3 separate regions of the Homo sapiens genome follow, and all the other regions are reported to be linked to region 1. Evidence: microRNA targets listed by miRTarBase, many of them from high-throughput screens and not tested one by one. Region 1 holds a microRNA gene; each other region holds the end of a gene's coding sequence.

Region 1 (5,813 bases):
AGCAGGAACAGCGGCAGAAAATTGTGCAGGCCGAGGGTGAGGCCGAGGCTGCCAAGATGATATCCTTCTGCTGGAGAGATCTCAGCCCAGCCCCTAGGGCACCTGAGTTCCCCATTCTCCTTCATGGGCAGGCTGATGAGACTAAGGCGAATGCGACTCCGTGCTCTCTGGCCCTTGGCTCCTTGTTGGGGGTGGGGACTACAGATGAGATCTGAAATCTTAGTGGTAGTACCTGAGCCATGACTCCCCACTGTAAGGCCAGATCAATAGCATTGGTGGCCTTGCCTTCATTTCTGGTGCTGCCCCTAGTTCCTGGCAGCAGCCTGCAGGGAGGCCCACAGGTGGGGTCCACGGTAGGGCTGGGCACAAGCCACCTGAGCGCAACCTTGGATCTGACAGCCCAGAGGAGGACTGGAGCAAGGGAGTGTGGTAAGGACAGGGCCAGGGATTGAGACCTGCCCTTGCGTGTACCTTAACCCTCCTCACCTTGGAGAAGCACTGAGCAAGAACCCTGGCTACATCAAACTTCGCAAGATTCGAGCAGCCCAGAATATCTCCAAGACGGTGAGTGTGTCAGCCCAGCGTCTCTGATGGGGCTGCCTTGAGAAAGTGCTTTCAGTTAAGGCACATTGAGGTGAGGGAATTCGAACCTTGCTTGTTCCGGTTTCTACTCAGATTGGCTTCTCTGGCCGGCGCGGTGGCTCACGCATGTAATCCCCGCACTTTGGGAGGCCAAGGTGGGTGGATCACCTGAGGTCAGGAGTTCGAGACCAGCCTGGCCAACATGGTGAAACCCCATCTCTACTAAAAATACAAAAGATAATGAGCCCGCTGTGGTGGCGTTTAGCTATATTCCCAGCTACGCAGGAGGCTGAGGCAGGAGAATCACTTGAACCCAGGAGGCGGAAGTTGCAGTGAGCTGAGATCATGCCACTGCACTCCAGCCTGAGCAACAGAGCAAGACTCCGTCTCAAAAATAAATAAATAAAAAATTGGCTTCTCCGATACTCCTCCTGTCAAGAATGATTCCTCTGGGTTCCCTGACCTTTTGTTCTAATCATAGCTGCTGCTCAGCGCTCTGGATCCCTAAGTGCGAGCAGAAACCATGTGTTACTCATTGCTGCACCCCTGCCCTAATCTGCATGTGTTCCATGTTAAGTAGCTGCTGAATTGCAGGGGTCGGAATTGAGGTCTTTGCTTAATGCAAGCATCTGTCTTATTTCCTGCCCTGTAGATCGCCACATCACAGAATCGTATCTATCTCACAGCTGACAACCTTGTGCTGAACCTACAGGATGAAAGTTTCACCAGGTGAGAGATGTGGCCACACTGTGGGGTATCACCAAGAACGTGGGACCTGAGTCTGGTTGTTTGGGCTCTGGAGCCTGCTACAGCTATTCATATGGCTCAGAGACATTGAACCAAAATTAGAAAAGGGGGTGGTTGACAGTTTCTATCTTGCATCTCATAGGATTGATTTTATGAGATCAAATAGGATTATTCACATAAAAAGCACTTTAATTATAAAGTTTTCATCTAACCAAAAAGTGATGAAAGATGATACTCAGTTTTCTTACTCAAGAGCCCTCAAACTCCTCTGGTGAATGGAGGGATGTTAGGAAAGGAGATGAGAAATAGCAGTGGCCATGAGAACATGCCTCCTCCTTTCATGAGCCTGAGATTCCTGGCTGTCAACCCTGTTTATCTTTTCTCTTGGGAGCAAAGGAGGGTTCAAAGCTGAGTGGGGCCTGAAGCTGTCAATTAACATGTGCATTTCTCTTCTCTGTTTCTTGTTCATCTGGCGATCTGGCACCACAGGGGAAGGTAAGCTGTTGTTGCTTCTGTGGGGTCCTGCAGGCCACCTTCTCCAGTACCCGCCTCCTACCCTACCCCCTTTCCCACCTCCCCGAAGACAAACCCTCAATCAGGGTAGGAGGGTCGTAGAGGGAATGGCCTAGAGTGTCCTGCCTCTCACATTTATGTCCCCTAATAATGTCATTATCTATCTTTTTTTTCCTACAGTGACAGCCTCATCAAGGGTAAGAAATGAGCCTAGTCACCAAGAACTCCACCCCCAGAGGAAGTGGATCTGCTTCTCCAGTTTTTGAGGAGCCAGCCAGGGGTCCAGCACAGCCCTACCCCGCCCCAGTATCATGCGATGGTCCCCCACACCGGTTCCCTGAACCCCTCTTGGATTAAGGAAGACTGAAGACTAGCCCCTTTTCTGGGGAATTACTTTCCTCCTCCCTGTGTTAACTGGGGCTGTTGGGGACAGTGCGTGATTTCTCAGTGATTTCCTACAGTGTTGTTCCCTCCCTCAAGGCTGGGAGGAGATAAACACCAACCCAGGAATTCTCAATAAATTTTTATTACTTAACCTGAAGTCAAGGCTTCACGTGTTCATGAACTGGGTAACTGGCAGCAAGCATGCGCACGTTCACATGTGCGCTCCTGGGTCTGTCTTTGTGTGTGCCAGCAGGGGGCGCAAAAGAATCTGGCTGGGGCGGCTAAGGGGAAGCAAGGCCTGGGCTCCGAAACAGGACCCAAGCTGGGAAGGCTGGCCCTGAGTTCTCGAGGCCCAGCTGTGCTCTTCACACACCCTCCATTTCTCCCACATCACCCATTTTTTTAAGGCTGGACAGCCATGGCTTTGCTGAGCCAGATTAAAAATCTGATGACCCCAACAGGAGCTGCTTCCTTGGCAGCAGGGTTCCTTGTGGCTGTGGGGAGCCTGCCTGTGCCTGTTGAGGCACTTCTGTGCCCAGAAGCCCAGTGGATCGCGTGGCCTGCTGTAGGCCCCCCAGACTCCATTTCTCAGTCACCAGGCGTGAGGAGCTGCTAGCTAACAGGCCTCCCCTGGGGAGGTGGGCTTTTCATGCCCGCAGTTCCGGGGCCAACAGAACAGGTGCCTGTCTGTTCAGTCCACAGATAAGCTGACACTTATCTTCCCAAGACAGGCCTTCCCGAATCTCAGGCACCAGAGAAACAGAGCCACCGTTTATACCTGAATCTCCCACTACTGCCCATTTCCCATCCCTGCGGGGAGACAAGGAAGATGTGGAACTCAGACAAAACATAGGTGCAAAGTATGTCCAGGAACTGCCAAATGCAGATAGGGCAGCAGGTGGATCTGAACAGAGGGACTGGGTTAATCTGCTTCGATTTTTAAGATATTTTTCTCTGCTTGGGGTTGAGTATCATGAAAGACAAAGCAGACGTCGCAGCCCCAATCCTGAGTTGCTGGGAGGCTAAGATGAGATAAACAACTAGACAAAAGACAGGTCAAGTGACTTGGATCAGTCTTCCTCATGTTCCCCTTCACACTTTATTTATTTCATGCTCCCAAGGCGGGAAGACAATGGAGGTGCCTAGGGAACCAGTGTTTCCACATCTTGCTGCAGCTGTAAAGGCAGCCATTTTGTCTCCTTCCCATTGTTCCCCTTTGCCTAGTGATTCGTCCCCCATCCAGAGGGGTGAAGGTCAGAGGTTGTTGGTCAGTAGTCCTCCATGGTCTTCAGGGCTCCCTGAAGGTTACTGCCGAGAGAACCCACCCGGGAGCCATCTTTACCAGACAGTGTTAGGAGCTTCACAATTAGACCATCCAACACTGTACTGGAAGATGGACCCAGGGCCGGCCGACAGAGAACTACGGTGCGCGCTCACCAGTTGCTACAGGGGACCCTGGCCACAGGCCAGGTGAGGTCTCTTGAGAGGGGGCGAGCCAACCCCAAGCTCAAGGTCGACTGTGGGTTCTGGATCCACCAGGTGACAAATCGCACTGGGTGGGAGGAGGGGCTGGGGCCCATTGTGTCCCTTAGTGGCAGCCAGCCAACAAGAACCACCCCTTGTGCAACGCTCTCAGCTCAAGACGAGGGGCTTCCGGGGTGCGTGGGAAGTGGGGAGGGGGCTGCAGCCAGCTAAGGGCTGGGGACCTGAGGCGATGGATGTTGCTGACACAGGGACAGGGGCCTCCATCATTACCCGGCAGTATTAGAGACTCCCAACCGCACCCAAACACTGCTGGGTAAGACGAGGGCCCCCGCCCAGCCCGCCCACCTTGGGTCAGGCAGCTTCAGGCCCAGGATCCCTGCGGAAAAGCTGCAGATCCCTGGCTCCCATCCCCCCACCACCCGAGTCCCTGGGGACACTTCCTGGTGAGCCCTGCTGCCCGCCACCAGCCACACCCTGGGTCGCTGATCACGAGGCCCAGGTTGCAGTCCAAGCAGGCCCTCCGAAGCCCCTCGACCGTCGGCCCGCCGCCTCTGAGCCACCTTCCCCTACCCCCGGCAGCCTTTCCCGACCCGCGACACACACCGATTTACCCACCCTCATCCCCCCTCTGCAGTCCCAAGCTCAGCCCAGGACCTCTCCCCTGGTGGCCTTTACCTGTCACCGGGCCCACCTGCCCCCAGAGAGTGGGTGCTGGGGAGACGAAGGGGCTTTAAGGCCCCAGATTCCACGGCCTAGAGCCCGCCCTGGCCTCCGCTCTTCCTCCTTCCTTCTCCGCCTGCCGGGCAGCCAGCGCAGGCTCCTTACCTGGGCCCCGCCTGCCACCCTGCGCACAGGTGTGTCCTCCTGCCATAGGCTGCCCCCCCACTGCCTTAACCCCTTCCCTCCCAGCGCCAGCCACGGGCACCTCCTCTAAGGCTTGGCCACTCCTCTAGGCCTCCCACCCTCTCCCAGGGGCCTCTTTTCTCCAACCTGCCTAGTCTCACCCCTGTCTCCAGAGGTACAAAAAGCGGGGGCTGTCCTTGGGTCCCCTCCCCACAGCAGATGCTGCCCCCAGGACTAGCCCATTCCTCTGTGGCCTCAGACCCTGCCCACAGCGGAGCTGCAGGCCAGAGAGATCCCTGAGGTCAGCGAGGGGTCAGCTGGGCAGGAGTTGGGCTGTGCCGCCCCGCAGTGCCCAGCCTGTGCTGGGATCCCCTGAGGGAAAGGGGAGGGAGAAGGCCCCGCCAGGCCTGTGAAGGGCAGGCGGGTCCCAGCAAGGTGTCGCTAGTGTGAAGTTACCCACCGCTACCCAGAGACCCCAGCTGGCCCGGAGCATCAGCCTTGCCCCTCGATTGAGGCCTGCAGAGGGAACGATCGCGCTCCACTCTCCGGACCGAGCTGCTCCCGGACCCACCTCACAGCACAGCCCTCAGTGGAGTCCAAGTCCCACCCCAAGGGCAGGTAGCCCAAGGGCGGTTAGAGGAGGTGGGACTTGCCTTTGTGCAGCTGCGGCTTGTATAGAAAGGGCGTTGCTGGGAGAGGGGACCTGGGCCCGACAGGTGATTGCCCCACCCGTGCCCTGGAGGGCCACAGCCCCAGGGAGCTATTGGGTTGCTCAATCCCTCGCTGTTCTCTCTCCCAGGCTTTGTTTGCTTCCTTCTTAATACCCGCCTGCAATTATTTGATGCTTGTGATCGGTTTGTGAATCTGTCTCCCTGACCAGCCTCCTAAGTTCCAGGAGGTCGGGGGACTGTGAATGCCTGTGACGCCGGGGGCTCTGTAAGGATTTGCTGAGTAATGCACGCCCAGCCTCTGGGCTTTGGGACCTGTGCTGTCTCAGCCTTTCCAGGAGTGGGCGCCAGCACTTCCTGAGGGATGACTCCCACCGGCTTTACTCCCCAGGACACCAGTGTTTCAAATAAAGAAGAAACCCCACTCCTGACATGGGGGAAGGAAGAGGGGACAAAAAACAAAGCACTCTTCACGTCAGCCAGCTCTTCAAACTCTGCCCAAGAGGATAAGGGCAGCAGCGGCCTGGATGAGGGGAGGAGCTGGGCGTGCCCGGGTGCTCTGAGGAGCCTGTCCCTGTTCCCGCCAGAGGG
Region 2 (4,252 bases), not on the chromosome of region 1:
CAACGCCAAGTGCTCATCGTTGGAGAAGGCCAAGCTGCGGCTACAGACAGAGTCAGAGGATGTAACCCTGGAGCTGGAGCGGGCGACCTCAGCAGCTGCTGCGCTGGACAAGAAGCAGCGGCACTTGGAACGGGCACTGGAGGAACGGCGGCGGCAGGAGGAGGAGATGCAGCGGGAGCTGGAGGCGGCACAGAGGGAGTCCCGTGGCCTGGGCACCGAGCTCTTCCGGCTGCGGCACGGCCACGAGGAGGCACTTGAAGCCCTGGAGACGCTCAAGCGGGAGAACAAGAACCTGCAGGGTAGGACCTGCCACACGCCAGGGCCAGGGTGCTGCCCTGGGGTCGGAGCAACTTTGAGTTATGGGGGTGCCCTGGTGGGGCCACCCTGGAATCAGGGGTGAGTGGAGTGACCTGGGTGGGAGTACAAGCCATGGGGGTGGCCTCTCAGCACCCTGTCCACTGCAGAGGAGATCAGCGACCTCACAGACCAGGTGAGTCTCAGTGGGAAGAGCATCCAGGAACTGGAGAAAACCAAGAAGGCGCTGGAAGGCGAGAAGAGTGAGATCCAGGCTGCACTGGAGGAGGCAGAGGTCAGGGGCTGGCTGCAGGGGTGGGTGGACACTGACCTGCTGCTCCACTGGCCATCCCCCCCCCCCACCCTACCCTGCCTGCTCTGTATCCACAGGGGGCCCTGGAGCTGGAGGAGACCAAGACGCTGCGGATCCAGCTGGAGCTCTCCCAGGTCAAAGCAGAAGTGGACCGGAAGCTGGCAGAGAAAGACGAGGAGTGCGCTAACCTGAGGTGTGTCCATCCTTCTCCCGTCCCCACCTCCCGAGAGCAGAAGGGGAGGGAAGCAGTGTGTACTCTGCTCTCTAGTCTGTCCCTCCCATGGGACTTTGAGGTCCGGGTTGCTGTCTCCATTCTAGCTGTGAACCTCGGAGATGCTAAAGGACTTGCCCAAAGTCACACAGTGGGGGTGGAGCCAGTCAGTCCACCTCTGTCTGCCTGGGCCTCACTCTTGTCCATGAACTTGCTCTGATGGGCCACAGGCAGTCACAAGAGACTTTAAATCGGGGAGGGGTGACTCATTTGTTCTCAAAATGGGTTCGTTTCCAACGGTCCTTGGGCATTTGTAAGGACAGGTATGCCCTTACGAGACCCCCTTTCATGCCACCCTCCTCCCATAGGCGCAACCACCAGCGAGCTGTGGAGTCCCTGCAGGCCTCCCTGGATGCAGAGACACGGGCCCGCAATGAGGCGCTGCGGCTCAAGAAGAAGATGGAGGGTGACCTCAACGACCTGGAGCTGCAGCTGGGCCATGCCACCCGTCAGGCCACAGAGGCCCAGGCTGCCACGCGGCTGATGCAGGCACAGCTCAAGGAGGAGCAGGCAGGGCGGGACGAGGAGCAGCGGCTGGCAGCTGAGCTCCACGAGCAGGCGCAGGCTCTGGAGCGCCGGGCCTCGCTGCTGGCTGCGGAGCTGGAGGAGCTGCGGGCTGCCCTGGAGCAGGGCGAGCGCAGCCGGCGACTGGCAGAGCAGGAGCTTTTGGAGGCCACCGAGCGCCTCAACCTTCTGCATTCGCAGGTGGGGACAGGAGTCCCTGGGGACAGAGCAGGTGCAGGCCTGCTGGCTGGCTGGCTCTGAGACTCCTCTTCCCCTCAGAACACAGGCCTCCTAAACCAGAAGAAGAAGCTGGAGGCGGACTTGGCCCAGCTGAGCGGGGAGGTGGAGGAGGCTGCACAGGAGAGGCGGGAGGCTGAGGAGAAGGCCAAAAAGGCCATCACTGATGTGAGGCTGGGCAAGGGCTGTGGGGAGCCTGGGACAGAATTGCAGAGGGACTTCCCTGAGGCTGGGCACCTGACCAGCTCCTCCTCCCCAACAGGCGGCCATGATGGCCGAGGAGCTGAAGAAGGAGCAGGACACAAGTGCACACCTGGAACGGATGAAGAAGACGCTGGAGCAGACGGTGCGCGAGCTCCAGGCCCGCCTTGAGGAGGCAGAACAGGCCGCCCTCCGTGGCGGGAAGAAGCAGGTGCAGAAGCTGGAGGCCAAGGTGTGTGCAGCCCCTCTAGTCCTTGGCGCAGGCAGGGTGGGTGACCCAGGGGTGGGCTTGGCATCAGGCTGTCCCCCTGCCTGCAGGTACGGGAGCTGGAGGCTGAGCTTGATGCAGAGCAGAAGAAGCACGCCGAGGCCCTTAAGGGCGTGCGCAAGCATGAGCGCCGTGTCAAGGAGCTCGCATACCAGGTGGGCGACAGGGTCTCCCTGGGGAGTGGCCCTGGAGCTGGCCCAGCCCAAGCAAGCCCTGAGTCCCCCTTGCCCGCCCAGGCCGAGGAGGACAGGAAGAACCTGGCTCGCATGCAGGACCTGGTGGACAAGCTGCAGAGCAAGGTCAAGAGCTACAAGCGCCAGTTTGAGGAGGCGGTGAGTGCGCTGGGGCCTGGACACCTGGACCGGGCACCCCAGCTCTGCCCCAGGGTCTGTGGCCAGGTGAGGCATCAGCAGCAGCTCCACCCTCCAAGGTCAGTGACCCAGAGGGAAGAGAGAAGCTTCTAACATCTCTGGGGAGATCAGACCTAGCTCCTTCTCATGGAACAGACCCCATGTGCTTTCCCCTGGCCAAGGCTGGGGCTGCCTCTGAGGGGTGGGGCAGGCACAAAAAGGCACATGAAGTTGGTGCGTCCCAACTTCCTTATTCCCGCTGTGGTATTGGTGAGGATGGACAGTGGCAATAGGAACAAAGTTGAGAACCAGGAGGAGCTAGCTCCCTTCTTGGACTGGGGCAGGGACCAGAATAAGCATCTCAGTCACCCAAGCGGAACCAAGGCCCTGTGTGTGCCCCCAGGAGCAGCAGGCCAACACCAACCTGGCCAAGTATCGCAAGGCCCAGCACGAGCTGGATGATGCGGAGGAGCGGGCAGACATGGCGGAAACCCAGGCCAACAAGCTGCGGGCACGGACCCGGGACGCCCTGGGCCCCAAGGTGAGGAGTGGCAGGGGCATTGCTCTCTGTGCAGGGGGACTGTGGGGGCTGACAGGTAGTACTGCTCACTCAGCTATCCCTTTCTCCTCAGCACAAGGAGTGACGGCCTGACCCCCTGGGCTCTAAAGAGGAATGTCTGCTGTTGCACATCTGGCTGAGGCCACCTGCCCCGATCCTGCCATCTCTGCATCGCCCCCTGCTGCCTTCAGCCTTCCCTGGGCCCTGAATAAACACCACAGCCAGTTTCCTTCTCATTCTTTTCTTTGGGGTTCAGGAGGAAAAACACAGTCCTAGGGACAAAAGCCAGGTCCACAGCAGTCATTTTTAAAATAAAGTTATTTAATAGTCTCCATTTAATTGGTTTATTTGCTGTTAATAAATTGGCAACACAAGGAAGGGCCCCATGTCCAGGCTCAGGCAGGAGCGGCTGCCTCAGGCAGAGGCAGGGCAGGCACAGCTGCCCCGTGCCCCAAGGGATGGAGGGAAAGGCCCCTCACTTCTGGGAGAACCCCCTTGGATGAACACAGCGGCCAATGAGCAAACAGAACCAGAGGAGCTACAGGAAAATGAGGCAGAGGGGCAGGCTTGGGGGAAGGCAGCATTCTCTGGTACCCACCACCCCTGCCCAGGGCTCAGAAGCCTTTGCCTGGGTCCAAAGGCCAGGGACAAGGGAGGCTTGGCTCACAGATGGGGGGTGGGGGTCACCCATATCTTCCTCCCCACTCTGGGACTGACTGACAGCCAAGAAACCGGCAGGAGCTCACACAGAGCTAATGCTAAATGTCCTCTTACCTCTGGGTGGCCCTGGGCCCCAGGGTTCTGAAGGAAAGGTGGGCATGGTACCCTGTCCTCATTATGGGGACTGAGGCTCTCCATGACCTAGGGCCCTCAGACCCAGGGGGACCAAGGGCTTCTAGGACTTCCCTCCCACCAAGCCTGTACCCAAAGACCTGGGGCAGGCAGAGAGCAGCAGGGAGGAACGGGAACAGGGCAGGGCGTGTGGCATCGTACCCACGCTCACCCACACTGGCCCAGCAGCCTCCCGAGGCCTGGCCCAAGGTCACTCCTCAGTGAAGTCCCTGTCTATGTCCATGTAGGGCTCCTCAATGTAGCTAACGAGAGCAGAGGGTGACTGCCGGTCCGGGTTCAACAGGATGGACACTGTCTCCTTCCAGTATGAGAAGCTGATGCAGGAGCTCTGGGCAAAGAGGGAGGGGCTGGGGGGCGCCTGGAGGACCCAGGTCAAGCCCAGCACCGGGACACCCCTCTGAGA
Region 3 (4,252 bases), not on the chromosome of region 1:
TGGTACTTCCTTCATGGTGGGAAACATTTTTAATTTCCATTATGATTTCTTCATTGACACATGGGTTATTTTAGCAGCATAATTCTCATTTTTGAATATATAAGAATTTCTGGTTATTATTTAATTCTAGCTTAAAAGGTAAAAGTATTGTCAGAGAACATACCCTATATAATTTCAATATTTTAAATTTATTTACACTTACTGTAGGGCTTAATATATGGTCAATTTTTGTAAATGTCCTGTGTATGCTTGAAGAGAATGTATATTAAGCAGTCCCATGGCACACAGTTTTTGTTTGCTTGTTTGAGATGGAGTTTCACTCTTTACACAGGCTGCAGTGCAGTTGCATGATCTCAGCTCACTGCAACCTCTGCCTCCCGGGTTCAAGCGATTCTCGTGTCTCAGCCTCCCAAGTAGCTGGGATTACAGGTGCATGCTACCATGCCCAGCTAATTTTTGTATTTTTTGTAGAGACAGAGTTTCACTGTGTTGGCCAGGCTGGTCTGGAACTCCTGGCCTCAAGTGATCCATCCGCCTCGGCCTCCCAAAGTGCTGGGATTACATGTGTGAGCCACCGCACCCGGCCCCATGGTGTACTGTCCTATACGGGCCTCAATCAGGCCAATTTTGTTAAGGAGTTTGTTCGAATCTTCTACATCCCTCCCAATTTGTTCCATCATTTTCAGAGAAAGATATGCTAAAACCTCCCAAATATGATTGTGAATTTGGGTGTTTCTCCTTTTAGTTCTTTACATTTTGAGGCCAGCAGAGGAAAAAATGGATTTTTTTTTTAACCCACAACAGTGTTAATACAAAATAAGGCAGGGAAGAGAAGCCCCCTCGGAAGAGGTGGGACAAACAAAAAGCACAAAGTAAGAAAGTCTGTTAAAGCCTCAATAAATCAGTCAGTCAATTACATTTAAATGGATTAAGGGCTCCCAGTTGACGAGCAAAATCTGTCAAGATGGTTTATGAGATAAAATCCATAGGTTGTGCATAGGAGCCACATCCAAAACACAAACCCGCACAAAGGTTAACAGCATGCCTGCTGCTCTTGACCAAGCACCTTCAGCGGGGAGCAGTGAATCGTGGTTCTTGCACCCCGCAGGCCAGCCTCCCTTCCATCAGGACCCCTGGGGGTGGCCAGAAAATAATAGGGGCACGAGGAGCCCATTCATTCATATTTTGAAGCGGAACCTTCACATGTTCCTGCCTGCTGGGGGACTCTGGCTGGCAGACTGGGAAGGTCGCACTCAGATCAGCCAGGACCCGTTCGGCTCACCCAGGATGGAATGAGCAGCCTGGAGCCTTCTCTGCCCCCAATTCCAAACCCTGGAGCTCCTTTGAGTTCAAAAAGGTCCTTCAGTTTCTCCCATCAAAGGGACCACATTTCCTCTTCCAAGCCACACTGCACAGTTCTTAAAGGAGATGGGCACAGTGCCAAAGACCTAAACTGCATCTAGATTTTCCACTAGATCAATTCTAGAAGGCGTTTCAGTGACTGTGGACAGGTCCTGGAGACCTAGACCTAGGGAACTGCTTCTGCAGGAGGAACGCAGCTGCAGACCATGGAACTTCTTACCACTTATTACTTAGAATCCACATTCTTAAAACAACTTTAAACTTATTATATGGTCCAACTGGGTCTGGACCACCTAGACCAGGCTCAGTCCTGAATACCCTGGTCTGTCCCAGCAGGCAAAGGCTGGGAGGGGGCATCTGTGCCCAGGGTGAGGATGCGCCGAGTGCTGGCGGCACTGGTGAGGGCTCGAGCTCTCTTCCTAGCTCTGCTGGTTGAAGGCTGCCTAACTGTGACAGTCACTTACAGCCACCATGCTCATTTGTTCAGTCGTGCCTGTCAACTAGGGTTTGCGTGGTGGCTGTTTCGGAAGCCAGCAAAGCAAAACCACCTTAATGTGCCACACAGAAGTGTAAGGTGACCCCCCCTCCCATTGAGTCGACAGCCCAGTGACCCCTGCTTAGAAGGGAAAGGAGAATGGGAGGACAGGCAGGCACGATGGGACTGCACCAGCTGCAGCAGGGGTGGGCAAGAGTCCTCTCCTCACAGCCAGAGTCAGGGCAGGGGCAGTTTCGCTTCTCAACCCCCCTCTGAAACTGTGTCCCACCCCTTGCCGTGGCTCTGAAACGTGCCCGGCACTGCTCCCTGCTTATTAGAAGGAGAGCTCCTCAGGCAGGAGCAACCTAGAAACTTTCCCTTCCTGATTCTGTGCAAGCACGGCTGTGAGCGAACAGCCTCCGTATTTCAACAAACATCCTACTTGTATGGTCTTAGGATCTGTTTCCAGACAGTCACCTCGGGGCTCACTCTAGTCCTGAAAGCATCTTCCCATCCCTTTGTGATGTTCAGTCTGTTGCGGGCATTCCCCTCTGACAGGTGTCCTTGCCCTGCTGCTTCTACAGGGTGGCAAAGAGCAAGGGCTTCAGCTCCCAAGCTCAGCTGCAGGGCACTTAGGCCCCGAGTGTGTCCCCAGTGACCCTGACTTGAGGGACACACTGGGCGCTGCAGCCACAAGGCACTGCTCCTGTAGTCATGGTGGGCAGCCAGCATTGCCCCAGGCCACAGTGCTGGTGTCCCAGGCTCCTCAGGGACCTGAGGACAGGGCCAAGTGTGCCAGTCCACACCAGGCTGGCCCTGCCAGTCCACACCAGGCTGGCCCTGCCAGTCAACAGGTGCACATACAGGTCCTGAAACCACCTCAGGTCAAATAAGGGATTTGGGGGCACACAGGTTGCATTCTGCCTCTTGGGAAGATGATGCAAGGGAATGACAGGCAGGCTGGTTCCAACGCATTGCCAAGCGCCAGCTGAGCGGGCTGGGAGCAGGCACATTCCGGTAACCAGGACAGAAGTGGGCTAGTGATACCTGGTCATGTCTTTTCCCAAGACAAAACCAGGAAGACTGGCCCAGCCCGTTTGGTGTGTTACAGGCTGAACTGTGCCCCTCCCCAAATGTGTATGGTGAAGGCCTAACCTCCAGTACCTCCAAATGTGACCTCACTTGGAGAGGGGGTGTTTAGAGAGGTAATCAGGTTAAAATGAAGTCATTAGGGTGGGTCATAACCCCATACAACTGCTGCCCTGATATGAAGGGGAAATCTGGAGACAGCTGTGTAGAAAACACCATCTGAACAGGAAGACAGCCATCTACAGGTCAAGGGGAGAGGTCCGGGACCGATCCTCCCTCCCAGCCCAAAGCAGGAACTGAACCTGACACCTGGATTGTAGACTTCTGGCCTCCAGGACAGAGACAATATGTGCTGCTGTTGAAGCTGCCCAGGCAGGGTTCCTCTGTGAGGCAGCCCCAGGGGACTCAGAGTGTGCCCCAGGAGTCCTGTGGGAATTGCCCCACCCTTCCTGGCACACTCCTGAATGTTCTCGAGGATGTCTGGGAGACGAGGCAGCGTGCTGGTGGCACAACCAGCCCCGCCCCAGCGTGGGCCCACATGGACCTCCCTTCTATAGGAGTCAGGGCCTTCCTTAGCAACTCACTTCTTTAATTTCAGAATCCACAGAGGTAAGTCCAGCTTAGACCAGGGGGCTGAGTTCTCTCAAATGAAATCTGTGCCAATATTTACTCCAGGAAGGCAAGAGCCCAGCCCTTCAAGGCTCCTGAGATCAGGAACGGCTGGTGGTTAGGAGGCGCTCTCCTGGCCGCTCTAGCTGTGTGGGGCACCCCCTGCATATGTGGGGCACACGTGGCCTATGCACACCACCCACCTACAAGCTTGGGCGGCTCCAGTGGGAAAGACAGGAGAGGGAAGCAACATTTGATTGAATCTGAGCCAAGAGGGCCAGAGGCTGAGGAAGGCACCCCCACAGCAGCCTCCTGAGCAAACAGCACCTGGGGGCTCTACCCAGTTGGGACAAAGGGCGAGGCTCCCAGCAACAGTAAGGGAGATGGCGTCCTCTGGGAGAGGGTGGCCTGGGGTGGGGTGACAGGGCTTCCACGCCACCACTGCACCCTCGGCAAGAACGAGCAGATGTGGAGAAGAGGAATGCCATCAATGCGCCCCCCATCTCGGGTCCCTGTGCTCCCCACCCCACAGTTCTTCCTGGAGGGCCCTCTGCACTCCTCCCAGCAGGCTGCTCGGCTCCTTGGGCCGCTCTGGGATCCCGTCTGGTGCCACTCCTGAGGTCGGCACGTCTGCATCTGCACTGGCTGCAGGAGGAGAGGCTCCCTGCAGGGGTAAGGCAGCAGGCACTAAAGGGGGAAGGGGGCTCTGGTGGCCCC

The links. The annotated mature microRNA hsa-miR-141-5p reads CAUCUUCCAGUACAGUGUUGGA and lies in region 1 at 3,601-3,622, opposite strand. An mRNA with a match to its seed (bases 2 to 7 or 8) in the 3' UTR can be bound and repressed. Matches are read on the target gene's strand: a 7mer-m8 pairs with bases 2 to 8, a 7mer-A1 pairs with bases 2 to 7 and ends in A, and an 8mer does both.
Region 2: miRTarBase lists TRPC4AP as a target of hsa-miR-141-5p. Seed matches in the 3' UTR shown: 8mer at 3,688-3,695.
Region 3: miRTarBase lists KRABD3 as a target of hsa-miR-141-5p. The part of its 3' UTR that is shown has no 7-base or 8-base seed match.

What each region holds. Positions count from the first base shown.
Region 1 is chr12:6,961,922-6,967,734 of GRCh38, reverse strand. MIR141 (microRNA 141) reads right to left here and starts at 3,638; the gene lies at 3,544-3,638. It overlaps PHB2 (prohibitin 2), which reads left to right. Exons shown (of 10, transcript NM_001144831.2): 6 at 1-59; 7 at 487-564; 8 at 1,235-1,311; 9 at 1,819-1,824; 10 at 2,023-2,408. The coding sequence ends at 2,050. It overlaps MIR200CHG (MIR200C and MIR141 host gene), which reads right to left and starts at 4,490. Exons shown (of 2, transcript NR_135032.1): 1 at 4,387-4,490; 2 at 3,288-3,534. It overlaps MIR200C (microRNA 200c), which reads right to left and starts at 4,036; the gene lies at 3,969-4,036. It also overlaps LOC105369634 and SCARNA12. RefSeq lists enhancers at 172-672, 2,744-2,793, 4,576-5,377, 5,619-5,813, 5,637-5,813 and 1 more.
Region 2 is chr20:34,999,107-35,003,358 of GRCh38, forward strand. TRPC4AP (transient receptor potential cation channel subfamily C member 4 associated protein) reads right to left here. Exons shown (of 19, transcript NM_015638.3): 19 at 3,298-4,177. The coding sequence ends at 4,040. It overlaps MYH7B (myosin heavy chain 7B), which reads left to right. Exons shown (of 45, transcript NM_020884.7): 36 at 1-299; 37 at 465-589; 38 at 685-800; 39 at 1,187-1,583; 40 at 1,662-1,787; 41 at 1,882-2,052; 42 at 2,139-2,243; 43 at 2,325-2,420; 44 at 2,842-2,979; 45 at 3,071-3,331. The coding sequence ends at 3,082. Among named protein-coding and RNA genes, the nearest start is that of MIR499B, 11 kb to the left of the region's middle. RefSeq lists an enhancer at 1-155.
Region 3 is chr7:149,733,818-149,738,069 of GRCh38, reverse strand. It overlaps KRABD3 (KRAB domain containing 3), which reads right to left. Exons shown (of 17, transcript NM_001290187.2): 17 at 3,495-4,252. The coding sequence ends at 4,023. Among named protein-coding and RNA genes, the nearest start is that of KRABD3, 21 kb to the right of the region's middle. RefSeq lists an enhancer at 2,093-3,009.